Linked DNA regions of Homo sapiens: regions 1 and 3 are each linked to region 2. Evidence: fine-mapped expression QTL. A gene starts in region 2. Each other region holds a variant in brackets. All regions are shown on one strand. Distances are between the middles of the regions. Region 1 overlaps PFKFB2 (6-phosphofructo-2-kinase/fructose-2,6-biphosphatase 2). Region 2 holds the start of PFKFB2 (6-phosphofructo-2-kinase/fructose-2,6-biphosphatase 2). Region 3 overlaps PIGR (polymeric immunoglobulin receptor).

Evidence for each region. PIP is the estimated chance that this variant, and not a neighbour inherited with it, causes the effect.
Region 1: its variant is fine-mapped to the expression of PFKFB2 in whole blood (TOPMed, PIP above 0.99).
Region 3: its variant is fine-mapped to the expression of PFKFB2 in whole blood (TOPMed, PIP 0.96).

Annotation. Positions count from the first base shown.
Region 1 is chr1:207,072,366-207,083,384 of GRCh38, forward strand. PFKFB2 (6-phosphofructo-2-kinase/fructose-2,6-biphosphatase 2) reads left to right here. Exons shown (of 15, transcript NM_006212.2): 15 at 1-5,452. The coding sequence ends at 6. Among named protein-coding and RNA genes, the nearest start is that of C4BPB, 11 kb to the right of the region's middle. The variant G/A (reference allele first, on the strand shown) is at 5,808.
Region 2 is chr1:207,049,316-207,060,194 of GRCh38, forward strand. PFKFB2 (6-phosphofructo-2-kinase/fructose-2,6-biphosphatase 2) reads left to right here and starts at 3,960. Exons shown (of 15, transcript NM_006212.2): 1 at 3,960-4,051; 2 at 5,386-5,487. The coding sequence starts at 5,403. YOD1 (YOD1 deubiquitinase) reads right to left here and starts at 1,893. Exons shown (of 2, transcript NM_018566.4): 1 at 1,373-1,893; 2 at 1-408. The coding sequence starts at 1,715. RefSeq lists enhancers at 1,457-2,027, 3,251-3,890.
Region 3 is chr1:206,922,458-206,933,476 of GRCh38, forward strand. PIGR (polymeric immunoglobulin receptor) reads right to left here. Exons shown (of 11, transcript NM_002644.4): 7 at 10,529-10,709; 8 at 9,999-10,120; 9 at 9,214-9,345; 10 at 9,040-9,098; 11 at 6,065-7,956. The coding sequence ends at 7,861. It also overlaps a transcript of FCMR not described here. Among named protein-coding and RNA genes, the nearest start is that of FCMR, 6.0 kb to the left of the region's middle. RefSeq lists enhancers at 2,578-3,027, 7,145-7,194, 7,665-7,954, 7,881-8,381, 8,005-8,574 and 2 more. The variant T/C (reference allele first, on the strand shown) is at 6,488.

The sequences.
Region 1 (11,019 bases), 23 kb after region 2:
GACTAGCCGAAGACCCAAGTCAGCATTCCGGTGGTGTAACTGTGTGTTTCCCTCCAGCCCTGGCCTCCTGCCCTTGTCACTAATCACCAAGGAGTCATTAACTTCCTCCCTCTATGCCCACCCCTGACACTTCACCATTAATCTTAACACAGAACATGAGGTTATGTGTTTATAGGACAACTTAAGCTGTTCTTCAGTTTGAAACATCTTTTCACCCAGGGGCAAGTTAGCAAATTGAGTCTTTTAGGACAGATTCTCAGATGGGATGATCTGGAGGAGGAGGAAAAAGATACACTCCCTTGGGGCTGAGCATGCCCCACACTCTTGGATCTTCTCTCTGTTCCCTGGTGTCTTCACTAATGTCCTCATGTTGGTGAAGTGTTGGGGGATGGAGGGCGGGTGAGCAGTCGGGGGACAAAAAGTCTATTTTTCCTTCACTTTTGTCTCTTCAATGTGTGTTTTCCTCACACTCCTTACTTGACTGCTTTCTTCCCCCACTTTCATGTCCCCTCTGGATTGTCCAGTGTAATGCATGGCATTGTGGTGTCTGTCTAGGAAGGAAGGGGTGATTGACAAGAGACAAGTCTGGCCCAGTTAATGCTTTCTGCAGTGGGTCTAAATGGATCTGGACTGGAGGAGTCTTTCCTTTCCTTTCTCCCTTCCTCTCCAGCCAGGTCCTGTAAGGGCCAGCCCAGACTACAGGACATCCACAGAATATTCTGGAGCTTGCAAGTAGACATAGGGTGAGAGTTCTTGCCTCCTTTCATGAGAAACAGTTCTAAGTCTTCGATGCCCTGGGAGAATCTGGCTCTGAGCATGTGGGAAATGTCTTGGTTTTTATTTTTAATTTAGAGTCAGGCCTGGGTCTTTTGAGGTCTGCAGAGTGGGGTTTAGGAGAGTAGGGTGGGCTCTAGCTCTTGCAGGGCTCTTAGAGAGCAGTCATGTCTTTTCTCCCATGACTCTCAGGTTCTTTGCCAATCACAGCAACTTTTCCTGCCAAAGCCAGTATCCTCTGGGGCTGTTTAGAAGGGCAGTTAGATTCAGGAGTCACCACTGATGTTTGAGTTGCTCAAGGCAAGAGGCAGAGAAGAGTTCACTAAAACTGCTTATTTTTGAATAATTTCAGCACACTGTCCTTAAGAAGAAAGAAACATCAAAACAAAATAGTTTTTACATGACCATTTTTTTCCCAAATGTGGAAAAGCTTGATGATGAATTTAATCTCTCTCATTGGAGTATTCTTTTGTTCATAAAGAGAAACTATCTCATCTTGATGTCCAGAGAAGTCCTTGGAACCCTGTGGGATCTAGCTCGTAACTGTTTGTATTTCTCTATTCACTTCTGTCATTTCATTTTCTTTGTAGGGTTAAACAGAAAATGTTTAGGGAAGAAATTCTTAGCCCCTTGATGACCATGATGGCTTATTCTCTTTCCCAATTTTGCATGCAAAATGTACGAATATATGTATGTTTTTCTGAGAGGCAAGTTTAGGGTTCTCATGGGATTTTAAAAAGAGATAGGTGACTCCCCACCTTAAAGTTATCTGCTGGTCTTTTAGAGGTAACCAGTGAGAAGGAGTTAGCTATTTTCCAAGGGTGTTTTCATTTGGTAATGGAAGACTTTTTGCTGTGGTTCTCATCCAGGAGTATTCCTTAGAATTGCCTTTAGGATTGTTGAATCATAAACATGCCTGTGTCCACCTTATGCTTAATACTGACTCAGAATCTCTGGGATCTGGGTCTGGACATGCATGTATTTAAGTAGCTTCCCGGATGATTCTGATTCATAGCTCGGGTTAAGAACTCCACCTTAGGAAGTTAGGTGGAAAAATACTGGATAGTAGTTTCTCAGACAAAAGTGTCAGCCTAGGAATTCTGAATTCCTCATAGTCCTGAAAGGACAGTTCTTTGGGTTTGATGTTTGAGCAGATCATAATGTTAAATGATATAACCCCCTGGAAGGCAGGCTGCTGTGTTTTAGAGGGTTATTCTAGGTTCTAGTCCCATCTTTAACCCTTTACATTGCTGAGTGATGTGGAACAAATCACTGAATTAAATAATTGTCTCTAGAGAGCAGCTGGGGATTTTAAGCACCCTGGAGAGAGGTGCAGACCCTGCCAGGATGATAAAGGTTGTCATCACTGGCAACTGACTCCTGACCCCGGGTCCTTTACTCGTATGTCCCAAGTAGGATACCATAGGCAGCTTCTAAAGGCTGCTTACCTAGATTCTTCTCAAAATTGTGTCCAAGATGTTAAGTAACCTGCTATTCCTGTTTAGTGGTTACATAACATGTACTTAGTGTCTTTGTGGAGCTTTGGGCTGGTAGGGGCAGGGATAGGGGAAAGCTAAACAGAAGTAGAAGAAAAGGTCCTTGTCCAGAGGAAGGTTATTTTAAGAGACAGGACATGTAATTTATAACAAATGGACATTTGCAATATAGCAACAGTCTGAGTCTAGAAGTGTTCAACCATCACATCGCTTCTCCTGACTTTTCTGTTGTCCTATGGCTATGAGACTACAGGGGTTGGGGGATGGGGATGCCCCCACCACCACCAGTGTGAGAATGAGATATGGTTGGGGAGGCGTGTTTGGCACTTTTACAAGGTTGCATTGTCCACATTTGCTTGGATGGTGGCATCTGTAGCCCAAATGGGCATTCAGTCTTTTCTTCTGCTGTGAGGTAAGAGTAATTCAGACCTAATGAATGAGAAGAGGGAGCACTTTGATCCACAGACTTTGGATTAACACTGTACCCACTCTTAGCAAAAGGGGACTTCTCTAACAAGCTAGCATTGTGTTAACCTGTCATTAACCCAGCATTAGAGACAGGTCACTGGGATGTTCATTCTGGCTCTCAGCCTGCTGTTATTTCCCCACTCTCACCTGTGCTAGTTCGCTTTCTCCAGAAGAGGAGCTGAGGTGGTCTTATCCTCAGATAGGACATGAGAAATTGGAATTTGGCAAGCAAGGGCTTCAGCATCCTTTAGTTTCTAAAGCAAGATCCCTTCAGAGAAGTCTAGCAGGAAGAAGCCAGGAGAATGTAGAATGGAAAAGAGCTCTTACTCCAAATTTTAGAGAAGTTTCAGCTCTACTTCTCATCTTTTCTCTCCTGGTCTTACTTGAATGCATGTTGGTAATCTGTATACATTACTATGACTGTGTCTATCACAAGTCCTACAAAATAAAAATGGACTTAAAAGTACTCTCTGCTGAGGCTGTAAGTTTTGTTTTGTGAGAAATAGGTAAAGACATTAGCATTTAATCTACTGGAATAAGCTGGTTGCTGTGGCTTATACCTGTAGTCCCAGATACTTGGGAGGCTGAGGCAGGAGAATCACTTGAGACCAGCCTGGGCAATATAGTGAGACCTCACCTCTAAAAAAGTTTTTTATAAATTTACTTGTCTAAAGTGGGGAAAGGGAAATTATTCTGTTTTCTTATTCTTGCTTCAAGACTATGACAGATTTGAAAGAGAATTCTAAAGCAGATTTAGAGAACCTGCTTCTCTTCTTATCTCCTAATCCCTAAATTGTAATTTAGCTCTTATCTGTATTGTTGTTTTGTTTTGGTAAAGGGATGATTTTTACATTGAGTTTTAAAGTAGAATAAGAAAAGCTTCTAAAAACTTGCATTGTGCTAGGGATCTGCCCTATATCTTTGCCTCTGGTGTTTCGTTGTTGTTGTTATTGTTTGTTTGTTTCCAAAGAAGTTGGAGTTAAGGACACAATATATTTGTACCCCTAGACTGAATGGGTGAGTATTCCATATGAGGATCTGGGTAATCCTCTTTGCAACCCACATTTGGTCTTCAGAGACACTGGCATTTTGAAGAAACATATGATATAGCTGTTTGGAAATAAATTCATCTATGTTACTTTTTTTTTCTTTTTTTTTTTTTTTTATGAGCAGGAGATCTTAATTGACAGAAACTCATTGGTGGTTGGAGTGGCCAATGGGCACGGGAAAAAGTATCCAGTAATCAGAAGAATTGTATCTGGGTTATGTAATCTTATGCACATTCCATTGTCTTTGCCAAGCCCAGAAGCCATGTTGTGTTCATTGTTAAGAAATTTGATAGATTTACCCAGCTTTTCTATGTATTTTGACTTATTGAAAATATGTAACAACTGAGTCGGGTTGCAGCACTGGTGGGGTAGAATCGACTTTCCCTGAAGGTGACACAGATGTCAGAATTGTGTCCAGGGATTTAATTTAGACCCATACTGTCCAGGAGACTGTCTCTAGTTGGATCTCTGTGCTGACTGACTGACAGACAGACTTTAGTGTCTGTGTGCTGACTGACAGACTCTAGTAGTGTCTATATGTTGACCAACTGGTAGACCAGGAGGATCTGTGTGCTGATTGACTCTAGTAGGATCTGTTTGTCACTGACAGACTGTAGTAGTGTCTGTGTGCTGACTGATAGATAGACTATAGTAAAATTTGGGTGTTGCCTGACTAACGGTCTAGGGTCTGTAAGCTGACAGTCTGCCTGCTTTCTGATTGTATCCATTGAAGTGTATGTACATTATGGTAATTCTCTGTCTATTAAATGTGTCTAACAAAGGAAGGAATTAAGCACTCCACGTGTTTTCTTTATAGGGGAGTTCTGTACACTATGATTTTAAATAGATATTTCTTATATAGTAGTGGCCAAATTCTCATTATTTTGTACAAGATAAAGGTTATGCATCACTTTTATGGTATTTTGTGAACTCAGCTAAGGGAATGCCTGTTCAGAGCCTGGAGTTGTTACCTTTACTTGAAGTCATCTCATCCAGTCCCCTGCTTTAGGGCAGGACTTCAGTTCCACTGTTCATTTCTGAAGCTTCTGTGTCCCCAGCTTACCCTGTTCTGAAATGTTGTATTCCATTGGACAGGGCTGCTATTTTTAGTCAGCCATGCATTTGGATTTTACACTTAATCTAGTAAGTAAAAATGAGAAGAAAATTTGGCATTTAAAAATTGATTTTAAGGGTTGGCAAAAGTATTTTTTCCAGTAAGCCTTTCACTGGATATCTGTGACCAATGTTTACCTACGCAATGTTTTTGTATCTGAATTGCTTATGTACGTTTTTTATTATATTGACCTAACAAGAAGATCAACTTATGCTGGTATGGTGATGGTTTTGCTATGGCAAAATCAAAGGGCTGATCATACATGGTGCCCTTTGGGAAGGGGGATGGTGTGGGGCTGAGCACCTCTGGGTTGAATGGGAATGGGTCAGATTGGGAAGCCTAGGAAGAGAGTTCTACTGTAGATTTCCTAGGCACTGCTCTGTTGAAATAGGAACATAAGTCTTTAGCAACATTCTGATTTAATCGGGTGACACTGATAACAAAGTATGCCACTCAGATCCATTTAAAGTGTGCATAACTGTATTTGAAATGTGTTTTTGTGTGCGTGTGTGTAGAATGGGTAAATAAAATTGTTGAGTAACTTGAACCTATCAGAAGGCTTCTGGGTTTTTTGTTTAGTATTTTCAGTTGTGTTTCCCATCCCTTCCCCACCCCTAAAACTTTGCCTCATGCTGCACAAGGATTCAGACTCAGACAAGCCAACAGAAGTTCGCACTGTAATTGAAGACCATGGTGTAGCCGTGGCTCTCTTCTGCCACCTTCTGGGGAAGATAGGAAGAACATTATGGAAAGCACATGAACTTCAATAGTTGTGTGTTCCTGTTGGCACTTATGCAAGAATTAAGAAACAATTACATTTCACTGCACTGTGCAGTAATTCCCATTAGCAACATGTAACTCATATTATGTATTATAAAGAAAACTTTTGGAGATTTTTTAGCACTT[G/A]GTGGACTGTTGTTCCTAAAATGTGATTTGCCCATTTCTAAAGAGATTATGGTCAAGGGTATAAAACAGCATTTAATTTTTTTTGAGACAGGAAATACAGATGGGATTGTTTTACCATTCGCATGCCTTATTCCTTGTTACCTTAACAAAGACCAGAAGCTCATTAGAAATGCAGAATCCCAGGCCCCATCCCAGACCTCCGGAGTCAGAATCCTCATTTTACTAGGACGACCAGGTGATTCATATGCACATTTAACATTTGAGAAGCACTGTTCTAGGGGAAAAATTTCCCACAAGGTAAAATGTTAGATGCCAGTTAATGGGAAGAAGTTGATCTGCTCTGATGACTGGTTTCAGAATGGACTCGTATAACTAAAATAGTAGGGACCCTCCTCAGAAGCCAAGTAGCCCCTGACTACAGTGTCACTTTATTGGCATGGTCTTTTGGCTGACATAGCCTACACGATTTCCTTCTACCAGAGGGATCCTGACTGCTCCTGCTTCATATCTTGGGTATGTAGCTTATGGTCCAGGTCTGAAAGGAGTGCCTGGTCCAATATGGTCACGAGGTCAGCTCCTCAGGGAAAGAAGACCATGACTACGCCATTCGGGTAGTCAAGGTGTGTGTGTAGGCACACCAGTGTGTTCATGCATGTGTATGGATGTGGGGATGGGGAGGTTGAGGGAGGAGGGAAGGTAGGGGAAGGATTCTGTTCTACTTTTATGTTCGCTGCTTGGCAGTGCTGTAATAGCTTTGTGTCTCTTCCTCTCTGGCTCGTAGGCAGCAGAGACCACACTGGCTGTGCGCAGACGCCCCTCCGCAGCGTCCCTCATGTTGCCTTGCTAATGATGTGGATGTTCAGGCCTCACCTCTCCAAACGACTGGGATCTACTGAAAAGCTTGGGATGTCAGCTTCACAGAGGCTAGAACAGGAAGTTAAGTGGGAACTGGACTTTGGGGGCCACCAAAACGAGGCCTGGAGAAACGTCACCATATTTCCTCCCCTCCTGCCTAATGGGAATATCAGTTACACTGAAAAATTTAACTTCCCTGTGCCTCAAAACATTTAGCAACCTGAACCAGTGACTTTTTGTCATCTCTGTGCTGAGTTTGGTCCAAGTTGGTCAATCTCATTCTGTATAGGCATTTAACATCCTACCTGTGACTGTCTGCATCCTTTGCTGGCTCTTTTTTGCCCAAAGTGCAAATGCACTTCTTCAGATTTACTTTTCAAGTGAGAAGGTAAGAGCTGGTCTCTGCCACTGTTCCAGGCGAGCAGGCTAGAGTCTAATATACTTATGCTAGCAGTTACCATTTGCCACATTGGAAGCAAGAGACAAATCACCAGGTGAATGGAGGGTCTTCTGAGAAATTCAGTCCCTAAAACATCTTCTCTGCCTTGATAGAAGAACAGTGTCAGTGGCAACCTTTTCATTTAGAGAAGTTTTTCTTGTTCCAGGCCCTTCAGGACAGGATCTGACTGCAAGACTCCCCAAAATGGGTACCCATCTTCTAAGTTCCCTTTTGTAGCTACTGTACTTTTGACTTGATGCATGTGCCTCTCATGCATCAAGATGGGGCTGATGTGGTTCTCCTGGGTGGTTGGGAATGTGGACTAGACAGAAAAGTAGAGTGCCATTTATATCACGTGAGTAAGTCAAGAAAGCTCCTTGAGAATCAGCCCGATCAGGGAGTGTTTTGGCTTCAGAACAGGTGGAAGGAGACACGCCCCTCTGTGGGCTCTGTCACCATGATACAGTCCTTGAGAGAGCTGTGGCTGTGACTTGGAGGGCAGTAGTCTCCTGATACCTGCCTCTTGGCCACTGGTCACTATTGTGGTCACTGATCTCTCATATAAAAGTGAGGGTGGCGGGGTCATGGACCAGCGCCTCAGTGCATTAGTCATTCGCTTTTCCTTACAGACAAATCAGATAACTCTTCCCCAGTGATTGTCAAATGTATGAATGTATCTCTGTAAATGTGGTTTTGACATGTCACTGTTACTGAAGGAGAGTATGGAATCCCCACAGGATATTATATCTTGCAAGGAAAGTCTATTTTTTAAAGAATAGTATGTTTTTAGCTTTACTTTTCTTTCTTTTCCTTTTCACTCAAATGCTCACTTGCTGGGCAAAAGGGTGAGTAGCAAGAAAAGTAATGATATGTAGCTTTTCTCAAATGGTTCTTTTATACTGTGGATGATACAGGACTCTGTTACCTAAGATGTGATAAGCTGGGCTGCAGGCGGTTCAGCATCCAGCAACTAGGAGCTGCTTTTCTACGTACAAAGCTGCCTTCAGGAAGGCTCCTTACCCTGTAGCAGATGATTTTCATCTGGCTGCCTACCGCATGCTGTACTATAATGATTTAGTTGTGATATGGATTTCTCTCTGCATCGAAAACTGTCTTTTGATGATCAGACAATGTTTATATTTAGTTATTTATTCTATCCATGTAAGGCATTTTTGAGTTTTCTTGTCACTGTTTGCATGTATTTAATCAGAATGTAATATAATTTATGTTGTCAGGTTTTTTTTTGTTTGTTTGTTTGGGGTTTTTTTTGTAGAAATTTAGGTAGTTAGAGCTTTTAAGTCTAATGTCATATTAACTTAAGTTAAATTTCCAGAACGTAGATATCTGTCTTCTGTAAAAGGAAAATAACGATGTTAAGGGACAGTGAATTTTTTTTGAATACTTTGTTTCTCATTGATTTTTATTGTAAGTGTAAACCAAGAGATGCATTTCTCTGGAGAAGTGTTTATCTCCTGGATTAATAAAATCATGCTAAAATATGCGAGTAATATGTATTGCTTTTGTAATAAGAACATAAAATAAAATTATTTTTAATTAAAAATGCAATTAATTTTTAAGATAACACACGAAAAGATAACATTTGGTACATTATATGTATGCAAAATATTAATAACATTGTCTAAAATGTGTTTGAAACTAGCTTCTTTAAGATGATTTTCAAATTATTAGATTATATGTATATTTCCAACTAGTGATTTTAACCAGTTCAAGTTTCATCAGCATTTCAAAATGATATCAGTAAGATTGTGACTACCATGCATTACTGACGTCCTAGAGTTTCATTTATTTATTTAACAAATATTTAGTGACTACCCATTAGTTGCCAGGCAATGACTAAAACAAAGTCCCTGACCTTTGTTTAGAGTTTATTATTGGAAAGGAAAGGTTAACAGCAGGTTTGTAACCTAACGCATCTCTTTCTACTGGGGATGCTTTCCCCCTCATGAATGACCTTCACCAAATAATGTTGGATAATGGTTACATAATGTATATGATAAAGTAACTTGGAACAATCTTTTGGGGTCAGCAGCAATAGAGATAAAATGAAACATTCATAATAACAACAGAGGATTTCCAAATTCTTTAAGTTCAAGGGTTCTTCTGATAGAATGAAAATGACTTATGAATTCTCCAATTTGAAAACAGGTGAGAGACAGTGGTTATGTGTACTGATGAATACATTGAGCTTTAATAATCTAGCTGGTGGGCTGACAGTAATGAGGATGTGGTGTCAAGGTTTAATTTCCTTGGAAATATCTCCAGGCACTTCTGCAAGTGTTCTCTAATTCAGCCATCAAGTCATCATTTGTAAAAGGCTGGGGTGTCTGGAATCATTCTCTGGGTTTTACAGAGAGGTAAATGAGCACCATTACTGAGTCACACACCTCAACACTCGTGATTTTTATAAAGCCAATAATATCTCAGAACAAGGTAAATGTTAAGACCCAACAGACACATGCCACACTGTTTTAAAATGTTGCTGGTAACTTAGCAAAGATACCAGCATTAGAAAATGATTACTCAGCGAGTACTTCAGTGTTGGGTGATGGTCATTATTTGCCTTTCTCCTGTAGGTTTCATCATTACACCATTTCTTAAACTTCTCCAGGGTCTTCACTTAGGACTCACTGTGAGGAGCATCAACCTTCAGGTTCACTAGCTTGCCCTGGCTATTTATTTTTCATTTTTGTAGAAATAGGGTCTCACTATGTTGCCCAAGCTGGTTTTGAACTCGGCAGGAGGTGATGAGCCCATGGGCACTTCCTGTGGCGTCTGACAATGGCCCATCACCAAGGTTTATGGTCTCTAGAAGTATTTTGCACCATCCAACCTTCATTCATTCTCTTGAACTCATTTGAGAATTTGACATGCTAAGGACTCTCTACCCAGAAAAAGGTTGACACATAGGTTTTGCATACAGTTTAGGGAGGTCATGACCTGAAACCCATTCTTGGACCTCAGGGTAGGAAACAGGAGCTACGTAATACTGTCCATACTCTCTTGTCCATTTCTCTCCTTTAACATGTAAAAGAAAAAATAATCCAGTGACATGCATTTGATACTATTTAAGCGGAGGAGGGGAATATATGATGTACTGGAATTTTTTTACTGCACACTGGGATATTTAAGAACGTGGTTTTTAATGAGATAGCATCACTGTAATCATGGAGAGTAATATTTTCTTTCTCTTAAAAACATCAAAGCACAGTCTTTCTTCTTTTATTCTCATCAAGCCAATGTCAGCTGCATTCCTTCAGCCCTTTACAAGCAGAACAACTACGCTTCTGAATTCCCAAAGGCATTTAAATGCCTTTTTGATTGTATGCAACACTCTACCTGTGAAAATCAGATTAGATTCTATAGGAGAGTTTCCCTGCAATTAAGCAAAATAATTTCAGAAGCATAGGAACGCTTGGGAAGCAGCACTGTAGCATGGGGTCTACTCTCAACATGTTTAATGCCCTTCACCAAACATCCAGCCTACTTTCAGAGAATAACTTGTTTATCCATTTGGGTTTCCTTCATCACTGATATGTTTGCCTCTTCATTGCCATTCAGTTTTCACTTCCTAGGTTCTCTCCTCTTTCCCCCATTGTCTTTGTAGAATTTATGGATGGGAAGGGAAACTGTGTCAGAGTATGCTTTAATAAAGTCTGTTAAATATTCTTTTCTGAATTTAAATTCCTGAGTCATTTCACTCAAACTCTGTTTCAGATTAGAGTTGGTTTCAGCTGTGGATTTCAGTAAATCTAAAATAACAACTCCAAGGTCACATTGGTTCAGGCTGGTAATCTCAGCTCTTTGGGAGGCTGAAGCGGGAGGATTGCCTGAGGCTAGGAGTTCAAAACCAGCTTGGGCAATATAGTGAGACCCCCCCCCCACCCATCTCTACAAAAA
Region 2 (10,879 bases):
CCCCAAAACGATCAATTCTTACTGTCTGTGTATCCACTACACATATTTCACATTGGTAAAACTTGGACAAAATCGATATCTCTATTGCTCCTCCCCAAGTGTCATCCCTTTTGATCCAGTCACAGTACTCTTGATTTGTTTTTCCCAGTATTGCCTCACTATAGAAGTCTGGATCGCTTGCTACAATTTGTGCTATGAGGCGTCTCATCTCAGGGGCACAAGCTGGATTCAAGACTCCTCCTTCGACGACATAGTACACACTAGTAAAGAGGCAAGAGTTGTCTGCTGGGACCACGGTTCTGGTAAGCACAGGCAAAGTTTCCCTGACGTAACTAGAAGCACCACGTTTAGTAAATGCAGGTGAACTTCTGGGCCTGGTTTGGTCTTCTTCAATGATCAGCATGTCACCTGTTAAAAATAAAACAAATCCCGATCTGCAAAGAAATTACAGAAGAAACCGAGTGTTCTCTAGCCAAGTCTGTAAATTACAAACTGAAGGAGTTAAAGCATAAACTGGGGTTACTAAGGAGAATACAGTTTTGCAAGTAAGTTACCAGTAAGAATCTTTGTTCACTGAATTTTCATAAAGATGAAAAAAGAACAAAAAACACTTGAGGTTGCATCCCAATTTAGTGAAGGGGTCTGGAGTAAACAACTTCAAGCTTACCTAAAAAGATACATTTCAAAAACAAAATTTCCTTTCCTTATACAGTATTTTACAGAAGGTGCTCACTACAGAGTAGGCCGCTAGGGGGTTCTCCTTCTCCGGAAACTTATCTACTCTAGAGTGTTTACAACATCCTTGATACAGCAACTGAAAGCTTTTAATTATAAACACTGATGTTCAAGTTTTGATATGGCACAGAAATAACTGCTGCTGGTTAGAAATTGAAAGAGCTTTCAGTGGGTGTTTTAAAAGCTAACTCGAAAATGAGTATGCCTGTCAAACGAAGTATCTACGAAGGGGACTGCAAAAATGAATCAAGAAAAAAAAAATCCTGCACCCTTGAGATCTCATCGGTGATATAGGGAAAAAGAGACATAAGGACAGAGAAAATAGGCCCTACTTTATATTTTTGTGGACGCCGAGGGAAAACAAAATGGGATAGTTTCAAAGCCGACCAGAAAGCGGAATGGGGAAGGGGGTCTTCAAGGCTTTGGGTTCCCTTTCAACCCTGTGTCAAGACAAGGAGTTGCTAGACACTTGCCCTGGCCCCCGTCAGCATTCTCTGTTCTTTGATCTATCCTCGCCCCTGGCCTCAAAGCCCCCCCGCCGACTCACAGCCACCTTGCCTTGACTGGTGTTTTGTTCTCTCTCACGCCCCTCTCCATCCTCCCGGGACTTTCCCTGGCCCCAGCCCTGATTCCTTACCAGATTGGATGGGCAAGTCTTCCAGAATGGTATCCCCATTGCTGAGATCCAGGCACTCGGGAGGGTATCCGACGAGGATTCGCTGACCGCCGGGGGCGATCCCGGTGATGGCGGCAATTTGGCCCTGGAGTTCCCGCACCCGGGTCCGGCTGGACAGCCCCTGCAAAACATGGGTGCCGTCCTTGGCCTTGCAGCGGAGCCGCCACATCGTGTCGGTCCGGCTGCCCACAGGCCAGGCACCCGCGGGGCCAGCTTTGGTCCCGGCAGCCTGTTGGGAGACGCCGCCGGGGAAACCAGGCGCCGGGTGGACTCCAAAATGGCGACCTTTAGCGGGGCCAAACATCGCGAGAAGTTGCGGGTGGTTGCAGTTATCGCGACGCTTCGGTGCGGCTTCTGCCTTAGTACCTTAGCAAGCGCGAACTCTTTTAAAGTGACAACTGATTTTTCCCCCACCCTCAGAACGAAGATGTAAACCTCCGTATTCCTAAAGGACAACGGGTCTTGCTACCTATAGAGCGAGTGAGGTGCCCTCCGCGTGGGTAGCATATATGCTCAAGAAAAGAGGGCGGGGGAAGGAGTTCCTGAATGAAGGTCTGGAGATTGGAATGTGACCTTGCACTTAGTGAGGTCGGAAATTATTAAATTGGGGCTTCCACACTACACCCAGACTACACCAGGAGAAACAGAATCATAGTTCACAACGCAAACGAATGCCAGGAATGGTCAGTGAGTCAAAGGACCAGTCAAAAACAATCACACTTGTGACTAGACTCGTGGCTGCATTAAACATTGACTCATTGGGGTTCCAGGGGCCAAAAGACTGGCCTTTCTGCCTCCCTGGGACTGTGCTTGAAAACGTCTATTTGCCACTTCAGAAAGCACAGTATGAGGTCAGCATCTGGGCCCAGGGCAGCTGCCTCATTCAGGTGGTGGCAGTGTAAGGAGGAGTCGTGTAACGCGTGTCATCAGATTCCAGTTCAGTTCCTGGGCATACAAATATGAAGACTTCATTCCTGCCTTCATTGTAACAAGTATTCATTGCAGTTGGGAGACAGGGTGGGGTGTGAGACACACAGCCACTGAATTTCAAAGCAACGTGATAATGCTAGATTATCTGTACCTTTTCAAACGTGTATGCCTAGAACCCAGGACTGTGCCTCGCAAATAAAAAGTGTTCAACAAATACTGGCTGAATGAATAAAGACAGAGTTGTATAGACATAGAGAGGGCAACTAGAGCACTCTGGGAGTTGTAAAAAGCCTTAAAGAGGAGATAACTGTTTGAACTTTTGGAAGAATTAGTTTAATTCCCAGGCGAAGGAGGAATAAAGACATCCCTGAATTTATATCTCTCTTTTCCAAGAAATCCATACTCATTGTTCTTTATCCAGCCGGGATTCAGACAGCAAGTCCCACTTGCCAAGAGTGGGTTTATCAAGCATCAAACGGGCCCGCTGGGGCAACTATGAAAAGTGTAGTTCACTTGGTGCAAACTCACCTCCACTGTAAAAGACTTTGCTTCTGAATAAATTATATGTAATGTTTCCATCTTTTCACATCTTTCATGACTCAATTTTTTTTTGCTGGTGCAATTTTCCTCCTTGGTTCTTCAAGACGACTGCAACGGATGATACAGCCTGGGTTAGGGGGTAGGTAGGAGGGAAGGTAGGAGTGGTTAGAAGTCCACCGGGGTGGCCGGGCGCAGTGGCTCACACCTGTAATCCCAGCACTTTGGGAGGCCGAGGCGGGTGAATCACCCGAGGTCAGAAGTTCGAGACCAGCCTCATCAATATGGAGAAACCCCGTCTCTACTAAAAATACAAAATTAGCTGGGCGTGGTGGTCCATGCCTTTAATTCTAGATACTGGGAGGCAGGAGAATCGCTTGAACACGGGAGGCAAAAGTTGCGGTGCCAAGGTCGTGCCATTGCACTCCAGCCTGGGCAACAAGAGCAAAACTCCATCTCAAAAAACAAAAACCAAACCAAACCAAAACAAAAAAAACTCCAATGGGGTGTATGGGTGGGTCCAGGGAAGCTTCTGGTTCAACGATGAGAGTGGTTGATTTTCTTAGGTCACAGCGTCTGACCTGTGGAGCCGGGTATGTATACACCCTAAGGCATAATTAGCTCAAGTGTTGTGGTAGTTTATTCTAGCAAAAACATCTTTAAAGCTTACGTTCCCATTTATGGATCTAATGAGGTTCTGCTGGGATTCAGGAATGAGAGCGTTAATCTTTGCAGCATTTTCTCGTCACCCGGCACACCCGCTCTCAAGACGCCTACCGAATAGTCTACTCTCGCGAGAGTCAGAAAAAAGTCAAGCTTTTTATTAACACCGCCCCCAGCCCTATTAGTTACCAAGCAACAGTGCCACCAGGCTCCTCGGCGCTGGGAAACTCAGGAGCTTGTGATCTCTCTGGTTCCGACTTCCAGCCGCCTTCCCGAGCCAGTTAGGCGATTGCGACCCTGCCCCGCCCCCTGGGTCCTGCAGGCGCCCGATTGGTGGATGATTCTCTCCAGGTGAGGACCTACGCGCGAGGGGGCGGGGCCAGACGGGCTCACATGATTTGCCGGCGACTGTAGCGCCGGTCCCGGCCACAAGCTGTCGGCTCGGTTCGGTCGCGTTACAGGGCAGGCGCCGGGGCCAAGGCAGGGAGGGATCTTAGGAGAGATCGTAGGGTGAGCCACAGCTGCGCAGCCCCGGGTAGGGTCTAGCGGGGCGGGATGTGGGGGCTGCGTGCCCCCGGATGAAGTGCGGGGAGAGGTGCTGGTCCCCAGGCATGGCAGGCAGCGCGGACGTTCTGGGACCGGGAGCCACAGTCTGTGTTTGGGTTGGAGGATTTGTGTGGTCAGTAAAGGAATCGTGTAAGGCTCTTGAAGGCGCAGGATCTTCCGTCCTCACCAGCCCCCTGTTGTCTGAATTGGGGGCATGAGCTCAGGACTTTCCCACTCCAGTTTGAATCAGGGCTTACCCCTCTTCCTGAGGTGACCTTGGGGAAGTCATTTACCACCTCAGCGCTCCGGCGTTCTTTAGACTGAGTCCCGGGGGTAACTAGGGAGAGGGTGCGGAGCAGGGCTTGAGAATGCACTAGAGGAGAAATGACGACGTGCTAGGGCTGTCTTGGGGTCCAGTTACTGTTTTTCCTTCAGGGAATATGTTCGAGATTTTCCCACGTCCCTCACTTTTTTCTTTTCTTTCTTTCTTTTTCATTTTTCATTTTTTTTTTTTTTTTTTTTGACAGAGTCTCGCTCTGTCGCTAGGCTGGAGTGCAGTGGCGGGATCTTGGCTCACTGCAACCTCCGCCTCCCGGGTTCAAGCGATTCTCCTGCCTCAGCCTCCCGAGTAGCTGGGACTACAGGCGCGCACCACCAGGCCCGGCTAATTTTTGTATTTTTAGTAGAGACGAGGTTTCACCATGTTGGCCAGGATGGTCTCTATCTCTTGACCTCTTGATCCGCCCGCCTCAGCCTCCCCAAGTGTTGGAATTCCAGGAGTGAGCCACCGTGCCCGGCCTCACTGTTTGCAAAACTGAGTCCTACCGTTAGATTGGAGTTAATTTCCTGGTAATGTACTTCGTCTATACATAACCCACCCCACCCCAACTGCTGCCACTACTCTGCCCAGATTCTTAAAACTAGAATCTGAGGTCATGAAACCTTGAGCAGGACACTTAATTCGATGAATCTCAAATTTTCAATCTGTAAAATGAGAAGAAATAATGGTGGCAAAATCTGCCTAATTACAAGATTATTGTTAGGACTGAAGAAGATAACGTCTGTAAATGTAGACTCGTAAGTCAGAAGATAAATGTAAGGTTCTAGTGCAACTCTTTTTATAGGTGAGGAAACAGAGGGCTAGAGAAGTAGCTGCTAACTGGGAGAAACAGGACTGAACCTGCCTCTTGGCCCAGGGTGTTTTTACTTATACCACACGGATCCAATGCACTGACTTTTTTTAAGTTATGTCTTCTTTCTTCCCCTTCCCTTTTTTACATTCTACTTCTCTGTTTCAGACATCTGAAGAGCTGCCATGTCTGGGGCATCTTCCTCAGAACAGAACAACAACAGCTATGAAACCAAAACCCCAAATCTTCGAATGTCAGAGAAGAAATGTTGTGAGTTCTGGCAGAGAGGAGGGACTGCTCTCTCTCAGCATTTTATCTTGGGAATATAGTTATAATCCTGGACTCTGCTGCTTGGTGGGAGTGATAAATAATTATTTGACATGGAAATTTAATGCAAAGTCTCCAGGGTAGAATGTCCTGTCTAAAACAAGTAGACTTAGTGAAATGTCTGTTCTTGGGGCTTGACTACTGGTGTAGTCCAGCAGTTTCTTACTGCTTTCTTAAACTGAATCTCTGTCTCCTGGGATGTTTGCACACTGGCTTGCTGATGGAAGTTAGAACTAACATTATTGTACACACAATGAGTAAGGCACAGTTGCAGGTGCAGGAATTACTTGGAGCTGGTAATGTTACCAGCTTTATCTGTTGGGCTAAGTTTTGGGAGAGTGCTGCTCATTGTAGAAATTGCAGATGGGAGCCAGTGCTGCTTGGTTTCCTTCCTACAGGCCTGAGGGGAATGAGCCCTGACACTTGGCTTCTCACAGTGTCTTGGGCATCTTACTTTCTCACAGGTTTAGCCTTTGTACTTTGTAAACTATTTTCCCTATAGGTTCATTTTTTTGAGGACAGCTTTCACATGAGCATTTTCATTTCTATGCCTGTCTTTTAGATAGAAACAGCAGGAGGGTTTGCGAGGAGATGAAGCATCATTTCCTGTCCCCAAGCATCTGTATTTCTAAGCATCATAGGCTGCATAGCTTCCCAAAAGATCTGGGACTCTGTTCCCCACATATTTTGGGGAACTTCAAGGAATGCTAACTCTTGCCTCTGCTTCTGGATGGCACCATTCCTGCAGAATCCTGTCAGTCAGTTCTTCTCACTTCAGTGGTTATATATATATATATATATATAGCCAGTTAGTCAAGGAATATATATATCTCAGCAGGTGGAAACAGCCGACCAGCATGAGACCAGGAATTATCTCATGTTCAAAGCTTTTCCCAGAGCCTCGACCTTGATGTCATGCCCTTGTCAGTTTCATGATTGACAATGATAATCTCTCTTCACCTAGCACCCATGGAGCCTGCTGGACAGAAGCAGCTGGCTGGATGTGATACTGGGGTTGGCAGAGTTAGGGTCTACAATTAGGGTCTCTTTTCTCTGCCAGGGCAAGAAGCCAGGTGCTAAGGGCAGAATACCCCATGAGAGATAACTAGTATAGCATGATGTTTGAGTATAGCCTCTGGAGTCAGACTGCCTGAGTTTGAATCCCGGGTTTATGACTTCTTAGCTCTTGAACAAGTTGCTTGTTCTCTCCATGCCTCAGTTTACTCCTTTTAAAAGTGGGAATACTAACAGTGTCTCCCCCAAGAGTGATGTGAGGATTAAATGACTAAATGTAGGAAGGCGCTTAGAAGAGTGTTGGGCATATATCTAATGTGTGTTATTTTTCACAGGTGACTCAATCTGCCTGTTGTATTTATTCCTGAAATGTTTATATTGAATCATACTCAAATGCTGTATTGGAAGCTCACTATTTAAAAGAGGGCTGTGAATAATTATTTTTTCAGTAAAAAATGTTTTCTTCTCTTATTTGACAATATTGTAACCCAGATTTGGGGATCTAGGATGCACCTCTTACAGGGAGGTACACTAATGTTACTAGGGTGCTTGATCCAAAAGAGAGCTGGGGCTGGGGGGCAGGATCGATAATTGTGGGAGTCTCTGACTACACGATGCCATGTGTCAGTCCTTCTAGCTTTGCTTTTTTCTCCATGGTAGGAATCTCTTCTACCTGCTTTCCTAACTCTTCTGTAGTTCCTTTGCCTTGAGGGCTTTCAAGTCAGGGAAGCAGTAATCCCTGGTTTCTTTCCTGTCTTCTAGACTCTAATTCCTGCTCTGGGCTCTAATCTCTTTTTTTCCATACTCTAGTTTCTCTAAATGCCTTTTTCTTCTCTAAGAAGAAGAAGGTGTCCTAAAGCCACTGTGATTTATTTACCCTATTCTCTCCTCACGTCACAGTCGGGCTGTGAGACTGTTGCAGACATAGTCAAAGGAGAAAATAAAGTTATGAGTATATGTGTTAACTTACTTCCTTTTCCTCTGCTATAGAGCTGTACTTTGGAGCTGGTTCACCTGGCAGCTTAGTGTTCACATCAGCGGCTGCTTTATTAATAGCTTAACCGTTGTTCCCTTGCTGCTCATTACACCTGTGTTGGCTAACTTTGACTCCGGGAAGTGACTGGGCTTGAGGATTTCAGGGCTGAAGAATGACTTTAGGGAGCCAAAACCTCCGAAGGAGCATTACTGGGACTTCAACTGCTCCAGGGATGGGGCGAAGAGGGGCTACTGGCCGAGGTGCCTTTACGGTGCTCAGAGGACTGGTTTCAGGGCTTATGAAAGCAGAAATGGAGGGCCGGGTGTGGTGGCTCACGCCTGTAATCCCAGCACTTTGGGAGGCCGAGGAGGGTGGATCATGAGGTCAGGAGATCAAGACCATCCTGGCTAACATGGTGAAACCCCGTCTCTACTAAAAATACAAAAAAACTACAAAAAAAAAAAAAAAAAAAAAAAAAACTAGCCGGGCATGGTGGCGGGCGCCTGTAGTCCCAGCTACTCGGGAAGCTGAGGCAGGAGAATGGCTTGAACCCGGGAGGCGGAGCTTGCAGTGAGCCGAGATCGCGCCACTGCACTACAGCCTGGGTGACAAAGTGAGACTCCATCTCAGGGGGAAAAAAAAAAAGCAGAAATGGAGAAATCTACATGCTTTTTTTTTTTCTTTTTAATTTTTTTTTTTGAGTAGTTCTGGAACAGACAAATTCTTCCATGTACCTTTCCCTAAATACAAAAGCAATGTATGTTCATAAAAAATTCAAACTACAGAAAGGATTTAGAAAGCGAAAAGTAAAAGACTCCTGTTTCTTCCAAATTTGATTCTTTTAGACATCTTATTCTGGTATATCCTATTAATAAAGGTAGGTTCATATTGTTCATATTCTGTTCAGCTGCCATTTCCTTTTTTATTTTTTTAAATAAGTTACTGTCTTGTGGACATCCTTTTAATGTTGATAAATGCAGATTTACCTCATTCTGCATTGTATGGATATGCCAGCTTTCCACGGATAGGTATTTAAATTGTTTCCAGTTTTTCATCATCACAAAGAGTGCTGCAGTGACCATTCTTACACGTACACCTTTGCACATTTGTGACAGCAACTTTTCCTACAGAAATAATAGAAAAGATAGACACATTGGAAATGTTCATCAGTATTACTAATTTGCTCTCCTAAGAAGTTCTATATTGTAAGCTGTTTTCAATATTTTAAGATATTTGATGGAAATTGGGCAGCATCAACTATAGCCATAGTGGTTAACTGAAACATCAGCTTTCTTAGTGTTTGACCGTAGTTATACGAACTTGGTTATTTCATGCCTGTCAACTGGCAGGAGATAATCAGCAGTTCTGACTTCTGATGAATAAAGATAAAATGTCACTAATGAAACATGCTTTATGGGCAGCATATTTCTAAATATTAGGCCTCTTTAGAGCCAATAAAAGAAGACGTCCTGGGTCCTGAAAAGGCTGGGAACCATTGCTCTCCTAGACCATCCTTCAGGATTAGAATGGAGAGCAAGTTGTGTTTACCGTGAGGGAACCTTTGTCAAGTGCTGACATGAGGCACAGGAGCTGGCAGCTGGGACTGAATGGGCAGTCATGAGATCAGGAGACTGGTCAGAACCCTGACCTTGACTGTCTATTGTGGGACCATGGGCAAAGCTCTTAATTTCTCCAGGCTTGAGTTTTTCCATTTACACGAGGGAAGTTATCAAGTCCTCATTTTTTTTGTAAATCTTTTTTTTAAAATACATTTATTTATTTATTTTGAGACCGGGTTATGAGACTGGCTAATTTTTATATTTTTAGTAGAGATAGTGTTTCACCATGTTGCCAAGGCTGGTCTCAAACTCCTGGGTTCAGGCGATCCACCCAACTTGGCCTCCCAAAGTGAGGATTACAGGCATAAGCCACTGCGCCCAGCCTCAAGTCTTCATTTTATCTAAGCAAGTTTATGAAAGGAAAATGAGTTTAAGTTTAAGAAAAGGAGTTGAACCTGGCTTAAAGAAGGTGGAAGAGAATTTCAGGATTGAAACAGTTTTCCATTGTCTATCAAGAGATGGGTTACATTGTCTCTGAAATTAATCAGGTGGCAGTGGCAGGTGGTTTTGTTTTTTAACAGGCAGGACAGAATGTTCCTACTTTTGCCAGTGTGGTAATTTGAGATAGGAAGTGTGGTTTAGTTTTGTACTCCAGAAAATGAGAAGCCCTGGTTGTAGCAGGTGTGCTTAAGTGTATTCTGGACAGAGGCGAGAGGTGCGTTGCTGGAGGGCTCTTGGGAGGTCCCAGTGGATGCAGTTTTTTGTTGTTGTTGTTCTTAGCATTCTCTGTCCACATGGGTAAACAAGAGCAGCTGGTTCCCTGGTTGCCTTCAGAGCAGCTCCCAAGTATCAGTTCATTTTAAACTTTAGGGAGGGTAATAGGACCTTCGGGGGAAGTGCCTAATGGGCTGGAAGGTGCGGACAAAGCAGGCCTAGAAGTGCAGGTAATGAGCCAAATCATGGGGGATTGAGAGCAGGCATTGAGCCGAGCTGGAGAAAGTGAAGACTCAGGGGATTTTACTACTTAAACCTGAGACAGCTGATCCCATGCAGAGGCTATCTGCTTGTTAGGGGCCAGTGATCAGGGATTAATGCCAGCTGAGGCTTCAGGGTACAGTTTGCTTGCCTTTAAGCTCCCTATTTGAACACAGATGAAAATCACTTATGTTGCTCCTTTACCTACCTTGGAGGGGCTCCTGCTGAGACTCAGGAATTTTCCATGTGTGCAGTGGGTAAAGGACTAAAAGCCAAGCCCTCTGACCCCAGGTCTGGGCCTCCATTTCTCCCTCCTCACCACTAGGGTCACTCTGAGTACTTCTTGCCAAACACCCTTAGGAAACTTTTCCTTCCGAGGGTGGTTCTCTACCTGGGCCCCTCCTCCCACTTCTCCATTGAGATCTTTCTACATTTATTTCTCAAAAAATGAAAGTCATATTTCCCATCCAAGTACCTCCATTTTACAGAACTGTTTCTTAATCTTACAAGGTCCCTTAGTACCAGGCAGAGGGGCAGCCGCAACTTGCAGGGCACCTTCTGGGAAGCAGTGGTGGGAAGTGGGAGGTGAAGGTGTTTCTTCCTTTTTCCCCCATCCTGTGCAGGGCCTTCCCTCATTGGAGCCGGCAGAGCCTGAGCTATCCCAGATGACCTCAGTGTGGTTTTTGGCCCCGGGACAGTGGCTGGCAGCAGTTCAGGTCCTTCTCCCACCTCTCCTCTGCAGCAAGATGGGCCGGGAGGAGCCAGCCCCTGTGAGCAAAGTGATGAGGAACCTCTTTTTATGGAGAAAAGC
Region 3 (11,019 bases), 130 kb before region 2:
TGAGCCTGAATTTCTTCATCTAGGAAATAAACGAAGCTGGGACTAGATGATCCCTGCCATTCCCTCCTGCAGAACACAGTTCCTGAGGACTTCACATAGCTCCCCAGCACCTCAGCCAACCTTCACCCTTAATCTCCCCAAAGTGTCCCCACAAGGTGCTGCCCTGTGGCAAGGGCTCAGGCCTCTGTCCAGTGACCACCAAGGCAATGCCAGAACTGGGGTGTGACAGGTCATGCAGCCACTTTGCCTGAAGTCACAGCACCCTGGTAGAGCTCTCCTTCAGGACCCCAAGGGCCCAAGGGTAAGGCCCATGACTGATGGAGAGAGATGCTGAGGCCACAGGGCATCTTGGGAAGAGTTTTGGATGCAAGTCAGAAGACCTCAGGTCTTGTACTGGCTTGGCACTTTCTAGCTTTGGGCAAATTTCCCTGGGCCTCGGTTTTTTCCTTGATAAAGTAGGGATTGCCCCTACCCTGCCCACCTCACATGGCTTTTCTGAGGCCCAGCAGAACTCACAGGCATGGAAGTGCTTTAAGAAGCCTTCACTGTGAGCTGCGCAGGGGTATTACTTATGAGGGCATTCTCAGGGCTCTGTTCCTGGAAGTTTCATCCCTGGAGGTCAGTTCTCAGGGCCCCAACCCCAGGTGAAAGGACCTCTTGTGCCCCTGGAGGATCCGGGCTATACTCACACTGTTTCTGGGGGGATGTGCCTGACAGACCCGGGCTCCACAGTGGTTGTGTCAGCCACTCCCTGCTCGCCCCCACACAGCAGATTTGTCACATGTTCTCTAAAACAACAACATCCGTGGTGGAAGTTGAATGTGAGGCTCAGAGCAGGTGCAGAGGAAGTGTGTGGGGGGGTGGGCAGCCTGCCCTGCCCCATCCCTATCTGAATCTCCCCTGGCCCGGAGCAGCTGTGGTTGTGATGTCCTCCAGCCCTGAAATGGGCCAAGATGGCAGAGGGCAGCCTCGGGCCTCTCCTTAGTGCCAGAGCTCCCAGCTGGGATTAGCCCCACCCTTCCCTACTTAGCGGGCTCTTCCCAATGCCCCAGAGCTGTCACACAGCTGGGCTCCACCATGCACTGGGCTTGAGGCCTGGGGCTGTCTTGGAGAGACAGAGAAGGGGAATATGAGTGAATGAACGTGATGTGTGTGGGGGCAAGAGTGTGTGAGTATGAATATATGTATGAATGAATGTGTGAGTGTATGATGTGTGTTGTATGACTCTGATGTTTGAGCGTGTGAAGTATGTGTGGTGTGTGTCTGAGGTGTGTGTAAGGGTGCAATGTATGTTGTGTGATACGTGTGTGGTGTGTGTGTGGTGTGTGGCTACAGTGTGAGTGTGTGTAGTGAGTGTGAACATGTAGTGTGTGGCTATGAGAGTGTGAGTGTGTTATGTGTAATGTGTCTGTGTGAATGTATGATGTGTGGCTATGAGTGTGTATGTGCTGTGTGGTATGTGTGTGAATGTAGGATGCGTGGCTGTGTGATGTATGTGTGTGTGTGAATGTGTGGTGTGCGGCTATGTGTGTGTGCTATGTGTTGTGTGTGGTATGTAGTTATGAGTGTGTGTCACTGCGTGGTGTGTGGCTATGAGTGTGTGTGTGCACACTCTATGCTGTGTCTAGTGTGTGAGTGGTTGAGTGTGTGAGTGTGTGGTGTGTGGTTATGAGTGTGTGTGTTCTCTGTCTAGTGTGTGTGGTGTGTGGTTATGTGTGTGTGATTGTGTGTGTGGTGTGTGTCCATGAGTGTGTGTGTGCTCTGTAGAGTGTGTGAGTGTGTGGCGTGTGGCTATGAGTGTGTGTGTGCACTGTGGAGTGTGTGTGTGGTGTGTGGCTATGAGTGTGTGTGTGCTCTGTGGAGTGTGTGTGTGGTGTGTGGCTATGAGTGTGTGTGCTCTGTCTAGTGTGTGTGGTGTGTGGTTATGTGTGTGTGATTGTGTGTGTGATGTGTGTCCATGAGTGTGTGTGTGCTCTGTGGAGTGTGTGAATGTGTGGTGTGTGGCTATGAGTGTGTGTGAATGTGTGGTGTGTGGCTATGTGTGTGTGCTATGTGTTGTGTGTGGTATGTAGTTATGAGTGTGTGTCACTGCGTGGTGTGTGGCTATGAGTGTGTGTGTGCGCACTCTATGCTCTGTCTAGTGTGTGTGTGGTTGAGTGTGTGTGTGGTGTGTGGTTGTGTGTGTGTGGTGTGCGTCCATGAGTGTGTGTGTGCTCTGTAGAGTGTGTGAGTGTGTGGTGTGTGGTTATGAGTGTGTGGTGTGTGGTTGAGTGTGTGTGTGTGGTGTGTGGTTGTGTGTGTGCTCTGTGGAGTGTGAGTGTGTGTGCATGTCTGTGAAGATCAGGGTTTGGCTGGGCTGAGGCTGGGGCCTGCCGGGCAGGGCGGAAGGTGTGTGGGATGGGAGTGGGCAGGAGAGCTTTTTGCATCACGTGTGGCCCAAGTGAAACCCTGAAAACATCCCATTAGGTTACAAGACTTAAGAGTTAGGGGTGTGAGGACGGCTGGGCAGGCGGCGAATGTCGGGAGTTTGAGGGGATCAAAATCCCCAGAACTGGGCTTGTTCCATTTACCTTTAGCTGTTGCCCCTGGGTCATGGGGGTTGGGGCCCAAGGGAAGACTGACTGCTGGTGAAATTGTGAACTTTACAATTCTTACATCCTTATTTTCTTCTTTCTTTTTTTCTCGTCTAAGCTCGATTTCTCCTTTCTGACTCACAGGGCTACCATGGTGCCCTGGCACTCTTACTCCCAGGGGAGTGTCTGCCAGGCTGGAGCACACCATGGGGCAAGGGAGCCAATGGCCCAACACCCTCTAGGGTCCAGAAGGGGTGAACCTGATGGAAAACATTCACAGCCCCCCGACAGCGGGTGGAGGGAATAAATAATGCCAGATCCAATGGAAAGTGAAGTCCTTGAGGTGTGTTCATTCGCTCTGTATGATGACCTTTTAGCTTAGGCTCTGCCATCCTCCCTATGTTACAGATGGGCTAAGAAGAACGTTTCTCGTAAGGCAGTTGTGAGGATCACATGAGGCAAGTGTTACAAGGGACTCAGCACACAGCCTGCGATGTGGTCAGAGTGCAGTGGAGATGAGCCACCGCCACTGGGTGGAGCTTGTTGTCATGGGTTCTGCTTGGTTATTGCTTTTCTCTGCTTTGACCTCCGCATGGCCGGGTTACAAGGGCCATTTTCTGGGCCTTCCCAAACTGAGGGCCTCCATCCTCAGGTGGTCCTCTCCATGACCCAACACTGTTCTCTGCAATGACAGACCACAAGAATCTCCTTGTCTGGTGGACTCACCAAGAACAAGCCCCCTCCCCAGGTAGAGGTACCTGACTCAGGGACCCTGTTGTCCCGTCCTTCCAAGCACCGCAGGACCCCAGGCTTGCCTGTCCCAGAGCAAGCCACTCCACAGCAGCAGGGCCTTGGAGCATTTACCTTTACAACAATAAGCCCATTTGTGACTTTTTTTTTTTTTTTGGCAGAGTCTCACTTTGTCCCCAAGCTGGAGTGCAGTGGCGCGATCTCGGCTCACTGCAACCTCCGCCTCCTGCGTTCAGGCAATTCTCCTGCCTCAGCCTCCCAAGTAGCTGGGATTACAGGCGCCCACCACCACGCCCAGCTAATTTTTGTATTTTTAGTAGAGACGGGGTTTCACCATGTTGGCCAGGATGGTCTCGATCTCCTGACCTTGTGATCTGCCCGCCTCGGCTTCCCAAAGTGCTGGGATTACAGGTGTGAGCCACCGCACCCAGCCATGTGACTTTTTTAAAGATAATAAATGGTAGGATTTTGATGACTAAGATTTCTTTCCTGACTATGGCCATATTCCTATTGGAGTTCTGAGGTTAAAACTCCAAATATGCAGGACTTTTGGATCAACTTCAATGTGACATAACAGCAACAACCTGGATTTTAGGATATTCATGTCCCTGTATCTAGGACAAAGATTTTTGGCTCTAGGGAGAGTGGCTTGGCTGCCCTTTTAAGAATCAGCCTTGGAAGAGACACTCCAGAGCTGCTTGGCTCCTATACCGATGATCCTCTCTCCATGCCTGCCTTGCTCCACAGCCTGCTGGGACCTTTGGTCTCAGTCTCACAGCTTGCCTCTCAGCATGTCCACTGTCCACTTAGACATGTAGCCTTTTTGAGATGATCTCTTATTTTTGTTGCGCAGACTCCTTAGTAGAGATAATTATTTTAGGAAAGCTGGGAGGGATGGGGTGGGAAACTCTACTTGTTTCTCTGCCTGGGGGACCGGTTTCATAGACCATAGCACAGTCAGTTCCTCTCGCTGCTGTTTAATGTTCTTAGGAGAGATGTTCTGTCTTGAGTTTTGGAAAAGTCTAAATCAGAGATCTATTTTTTAGCTTTACAAAACAAAATCAATTGCTATAAACAAGTTCCTGGCTGGGTGCAGTGGCTCACGCCTGTCGTCCCCATGCTTTGGGAGGCAGAGGCAGAAGGATTGCTTGAGGCCAGGAGTTCCAGACCAGCCTGGGCAACAAACAAGACCCTGTCTCTACCAAAAAAAAAAAAAAAAAAAAAAAAAAAAAAAAAAAAAAAAAATTCCTAACCACTGTTTGGCCTTAATAATGCCCAGCAGTGGTTGAGCATTAATAATAGTTGGGCCTTCATAATAGTCCTGTTGGGCCTTAATAATAGTCCTGTCTTTACATATTGGACTTTTAAAAAAGAATAAACATTAAGATAATTCAAGAACTTGGGAAAGATTTCCTTGTCATCAAATGTTTAAACAGTTCCTTGAATGCTCGGGGCCACTGACCGTTGCTAATTGGTTTATCATCATCAATCCTGCAGTTTATGGTCACTCCCCTATACTAAGCTGAATCATATCCTCTCCAAACTCACGTCCACTGGAACCTATGAACTAGCTTCCTTATTTAAAAGGGTTTCTTGTGCTACACGGGGAGCAGATGGACTTTGAGCCTTACTGACAATATCACTTAGGAATAATATAAGATCGCTTTTGGCTTTAGTGACATTTCTTGACCTTTGCTTCAAAGGGCTGGGATAGGCTACACGAGTTCAGGACTGGCTCGCTGGTTATTGCAATGCGTACAGAAGTTGCATCTTAATCCTCTACCATAAACATGGCCCTTTGGTGAGTCAGAGAACAGCTTCCTGGAAGGGTAAGACAGTGGTAGTTTCTGACACACCTGTCATTTTGATCCTCCTGGAACGATTTGCTGTCATTCCAGAAGGTATGCATCCCCATCACAGAAGAAAGAAAAAAACATTTCTGATGCCCCCTCTTCTGGCTGGATAGAAGCCCAAGACTCTGACCCAGGTCAGGGCCTGGGAACTGAGACTGGAGTACTGCAGTTAGTGGGGCTGGAGGGAACACCAAAGGAGGCCTGAAGTCTGAGTCCCAGGAAAAGGTAGGCTTGGGAAGCTCATAGCATCCACAGCATTATGTTTAAGGCCTGGGTGGAAGCAAAGGTTCACATCAGGCAGGATGGCAGACTGGGGAGAACTCTCTTGCAGAGAGAACTCTCCACACACAGAAGCCCTGTGGAAGAGTCTAGGGGTGAGATGGGGGGCTAGCTGCCAACAGACAGCTTGGGCAGCCCTTAGAGGATATGACATGGTTCAGCACCAGAACCTAGGAATGATCTTAACAGACAAGGGGGTCCCAGGGTGCCTAAAATTGGGACCAAAGCAAAAGGCAGCCAGATGCAGTGGCTCACATCTGTGATCCCAGCACTCTGGGAGGCAGAGGTGGGAGGATCAGTTGAGCCCAGGAATTCAACACCTGCATAGGCAACATGGCGAAATTCTGTCTCTACAAAAAAATACAAAAAGTTAGCCAGTGTGGTGGTGGACGCCTGTAGTCCAAGCTACTCTGGAGGCTGAGGTGGAAGGATCACTTGAAACCAGGAGGTTGAGGCTGCAGTGAGCCATGATTGCACCACTGCACTCCAGCCTGGGCAACAGAGTGCCCTGTCTTAAAAAAAAAAAAGGAAAAGAAAAAGAAAAGAAAAGCTCTGAAGAGGCTGTCTGGGAGACAGAAGGTATTGGGTGCAAATACAGTCTGAGCCTCGTTGGTGGCAATCACAGTCTTTAATCATTAATTGTCATATTTCTGATTTGTTAGCAAGTGCCAGCTTGTAGGCTGGTTGAAGTACAGAACTCAGAGGAAAAAAGAAATTAAATTTTAGCTTTCTGGAGAGCAGCCCCTCTCTGGCACCATCAAACACTTCTTTGTTTCCCTTCAACTTGGAACTCTTCAAACATCAGGGGTTGTGAGGGTTTGGCCATTCTTTTATCTTGGGTCCATGTGAGTGACAGAAATGGTGCGGCCTGGGAAAGATCTCCCTCCTTTACATTTTCTCTTCTCCCTCCTCCTCCTTATTCTAAAACTGTGCCTCCAACAGAGGGGCAGGGGCTCTTGTAGAGAGATCCCTGGCCCAGGACAGGAGATGCCAAATCTAATTTATCTCACTGAGGGCCTTTGAGAAAAACGC[T/C]TCAGGGCCAGGCTCAGTGGCTCATGCCTATATAATCCCAGTACTTTGAGAAGCTGAGGCGGCAGATCACTTGAGGCCAGGAGTTCGAGACCAGTCTCGTCAACATGGCGAAACCCTGTCTCTACAAAAAAAAAAAAAAAAAAAAAAAATTAGCCAGACATGGTGGCCCACATCTGTAGTCCCAGCTACTTGAGAGGCTGAGGCATGAGAATAGCTTGAACCTGGAAGGCAGAGGTTTCAGTGAGCCGAGATTGTGTCACTGCATTCCAGTCTGGGTGACACAGTGAGACTTTGTCTCAAAAAAAAGAAAAGAAAAAAAGAGGCCGGACGCGGTGGCTCACGCCTGTAATCCCAGCACTTTGGGAGGCAGAGGCAGGCGGATCACGAGGTCAGGAGATCGAGACCATCCTGGCTAACACGGTGAAACCCTGTCTCTACTAAAAATACAAAAAATTAGCCAGGCGTGCTGGCAGGCGCCTGTAGTCCCAGCTACTTGGGAGGGTGAGGCAGGAGAATGGTGTCAACCTGGGAGGCGGAGGTTGCAGTGAGCCGAGATTGCGCCACTGCACTCCAGCCTGGGCGACAGTGAGAGACTCCGTCTCAAAAAAAAAAAAGAAAAAGAAAAACGCTTCACTCTTCCAAACCTCAATTTTCTTATGTGTGAAATGGTAAGAATGTGGGTTTATAATTACCTGTGTGTATGCTCATCATACATGACCCCTAAGGCCTTAGGACTCGAGACATTTTATGACCTCTCCCAATAGGGGCAGAGGTGAGCACCCCTGGTGAAAAGTTAAGACTCAGTGAGTATAAATACGCCAAGAAGAGCTGTGGCTTCTTTCACTGGTGTCCTCAGAAAGGCTGTGAGCAGTGTTGGTGGCATACCTGTCACAGCATCTAGCAAAGCACCTGAATTCTAGTATGAATTCAAATACATCTTTTGATGGAAGGAAAGAAGAAGAGGGGAAGGACGGGAGGGAGGGATGGAGTGGAGGGAAAAATTCTGTTGACATCCCATGATAAGGGTGCAGAGGGGCGCTGCACGTCTCTCCTTTCTGCAATCAGCTCTCCCACCCTGGTCCCTCTTCCTTCAAGGGACCCATGAGGACCTCTATTCTTCTCCGTACCTGAGGTTCTCTCAACAGAAAGAAGTTGCAAGTGGGACCTCCTCATGCCACCCTCATCCCCAATAGGAACAATTAGGCCAGGCTTTGATGTCACTGAGGAGGGGACCAGCACGCCTCTGAGGACAGTAGGAAAAACCTAGGCAGGTGTTAGAGCAGGGAGTGGGGTCCCCAGGAGCTGAGGGCCCCAGGATCGACATGATTCTGAAGGTGATTGTCATGGGTGCAGGGAGCAGGCGGCGACACCGTCTAGGCTTCCTGGGGGCCGTCCTGGGCCTCGGCGGCCACGGTGCTGGACTGGAGCAGGAAGTCTTTGTAGGCCATCTCGGCTTCCTCCTTGGATGACTAAGGGGCAAGAGGAGAGGCATCAGTGTTGGGGGCACTGGCTCAGTGGGTGGAGTCAGGGGAGGGGAGGTGCTTAATGTCCTGAATTCGTGATCTTGGTCCAAGCAACACAAGCCTTTGGGGCCCACTGTTCTCATCCCAGCCCCCATGCTCACCAAGAAGGACGCATTTTGAGAAATGGAAAGTTGCAGCCTCTAAAAATATCTTCTTCTGTCTCACTACCTCCTTCTGACACACGGAGTGGAACCGCCTCTGTTGCCCGGGCCTGTCCCCGGAAGCTGCCCACACAGTCCACGGGCAAGGTGGCCTAGGCTGGGGTCAACCACGGTGGTGTATGTTTTTCTTTCTCCACCAGCCCAGACAGGTAGCTTTTTGGCACCACAAAGTTAAAGGGGAAGGCTGTCCCAGGAATAACTCGTTCTAACTTTGCTAAATGCCAGAGATGTTTCAAGAAAAAGTAGATATGATAAAAACAACAACAACAACAACAAAAACTCTCACCTCGGGATTAAAGGCATGAGATGTTATTTTTCTTGGTCCCCTGAGTCCTAGGGCAGATTGAGGGGATGGTATATGGCACCCAAGGCAGGAGTTGCCTCTGGTGGGGCTTCAAGAGAAGTGAGCAGGGGCTTCTAGCCTCAAACTGCCCACCGCAAGCAAATGTCTCCTAGGCCCAGGCAAAAAGCTGGTCCTGAGCAAACCCTCAAGGGAGGATGTGTGGCCTGAGGTCCTTGGGTCCCCCAACCCAGGAAGAGCATCCATTTAATCACCAGCATTTGGCATTGTAGCTTCCCATCTTTTATGCACCTGCTTTCCTCATCTCCTGGCCTGCCTCTCTCCTGCAGTTTTACAGCCTAATCATATAGCTCACCTCCTTCCTGGGCCTTATCCACATCAGCATCCCACAACCAGTAAGATATAGTTCTTCCTCAAAAAGTCCTGAGGACTCCTGAGGACTATTTATATCATCCTCCCTATTCTGGGATCGGCCCCCATGTTGAGGTAGTTCTTTCTGAAGTCTAACTGCATCCCCTCATGCTGCATTTCTTTGTCATGTAGTGGGGCTTCCTTCTTCCTCCTCACCCTTTTTGCCTTCTTGGGTTCTTTGGTCTCTGTGGTGCTCTCAGTGGTGGCAACAAACTCTGTGTGAAGAAAGAGGGTAGGTTAGCCCTTACTAGCCTCCTTTTCCCAACCCAGATGTGAGACCAATTCTTACTCTCCCCAGGGGCTGAGCATTCCCTTGAGTGAGGGTCATACCTTCTTTTCCTCCGAGGGATGTCTCCTGAGTGATCGAAGAGGCTCCCATGTTGTCATTGGCTCCAAATTCCCTGGAGTTCTCGAAGTCTGACATGCTAATGTCTGTCCTGTAGCTTCTGATTGAAACTCGGTCTGTCCGGGAGGAAGAGGAGTTGGTGTAAGGACAGGGGCTGGGACCTAGAAGGCCAGGCTGGGCTGCTTCTCTCTGGGCGGATCCACTGTAGCCCTGCAGGACAGCTGAGGTGGTGCAGCTCTGACTATGACCCAGGGGGATGGAAATGATCCGAGTCTCCTCCCCAGTCCCTTTTCCTGGGTAATCAGGACTTGGTAATCCCTGATCTTTGTCACTCTGGGACCTTTCAATGCACAGCATCTCCTTTGGTCCTCACATCAGCCCCGTGAGGTCCTGATTATCATCCTTGACTTGAGCCATGAGGAAACTGAGGCATGGCATAAGGATGGCTCAATGTCACACAGCTCATTAGTTATCCAATTAGTCCAAGCCCAGGGTCTCCTGAAACCCAATCTCCTCTTCCTGGCAGCCCTGTCTCTGAACCTAGATCCTGGGTAATTGGAGATGATTTTCCAGTGTTAGTATTTGGACAGCAGCTCTGAATTTCAGTTTCGAGTATGTGTGGGTTTATCTTTCCCCATCCTGCTTTCTCGGGATCCTTTGTTTTAGCTCATGAAAAAGAAGAGACACAGCAGCTTCCTCTATGGGTGGATGATTCAGGACTGAGGGCTCGGGTTGGAGGTGGGAGGCAGGGAGTATCCCAGGGACTCACCGACGTTCTTCCTGTGCCGGGCTCTGGCCACCCCCACAGCCACGGCTCCCACTGCCAGCACCAGGCCCAGGGGCACCAGGGTGGAGACCAGCGCTCTGGAGCTTCCACCTTGTTCCTCAGAGCTGGAAGAAGGCTTAAGTTAGTTCATCCCTGGAAGGGAGATCTGGGGGCCCGACGATGTGCTGGCAAGGTTGGCTTAGTCCTTTTTCCTCCCAGGTTTATCCACCCCACCCTGCTGATGCAGCTCCCTAGCTCTGTTCTTCTAAGAAGCCTTCCCAGACTGGCAAAGGCACGCACTGGGCCTTGTTGCATCCTAGGCCTGGAAGATTGAACTGAATTGTAAACACCTCCCCAGCCATGGGAGAAGGGCAGAGGGTACCATAGGACCCTCCCACATATAAGCAGAGGTAGTAAGGGCTGCCCCAGTGCTCAAGAGACAGATGGGCTTTCCTCCTTGGACCTGGTGGCCCAGCCTCAGGTGCTCGGCTCTGGGGTGTTCTCCGAGTGGGGAGCCTTGAATCCTTCCTTACCTGCCGGAATCCACAGATGCTCTGCTCCCATCGGCTTGATCTCTTGTATCTGCCACCGCCTTTTCCTCTGCAAAAAGCCTGGGATCCTGAATGGCTTTGTTCTCAATCTCCCGAAAACCAGAGTCTAGCACCTTCTCATCAGGAGCAGCGTCTGCCTTCGCTAGGCTGACATCGCGGGACCCTGCAGCAGGGAAGAGTGGGCCTGGGTTGTGATTTTTCTCTATGCTCTTACTCCTCGAGGTGAAGGAGTCTGGGGGAGACTTCATGAGGAATCACAGGGTCAGGGTTCGATCTCAAGGCTGTTGGGGTAGGACCCAGGATGACATTAGAAACAGCTGTGATGGCCTTCTTCAGCTGTCACAGATGATCTCTGCCCCATTACTACCAAAAGTATAGTGGGGACCTTCAAGGCTTCGTGTCATAGACCAGCTGTGCATAAAGGCTGACCCATCACTTATGCCCGGGAGATTTTCAAGGCTCTGAGACGCTGC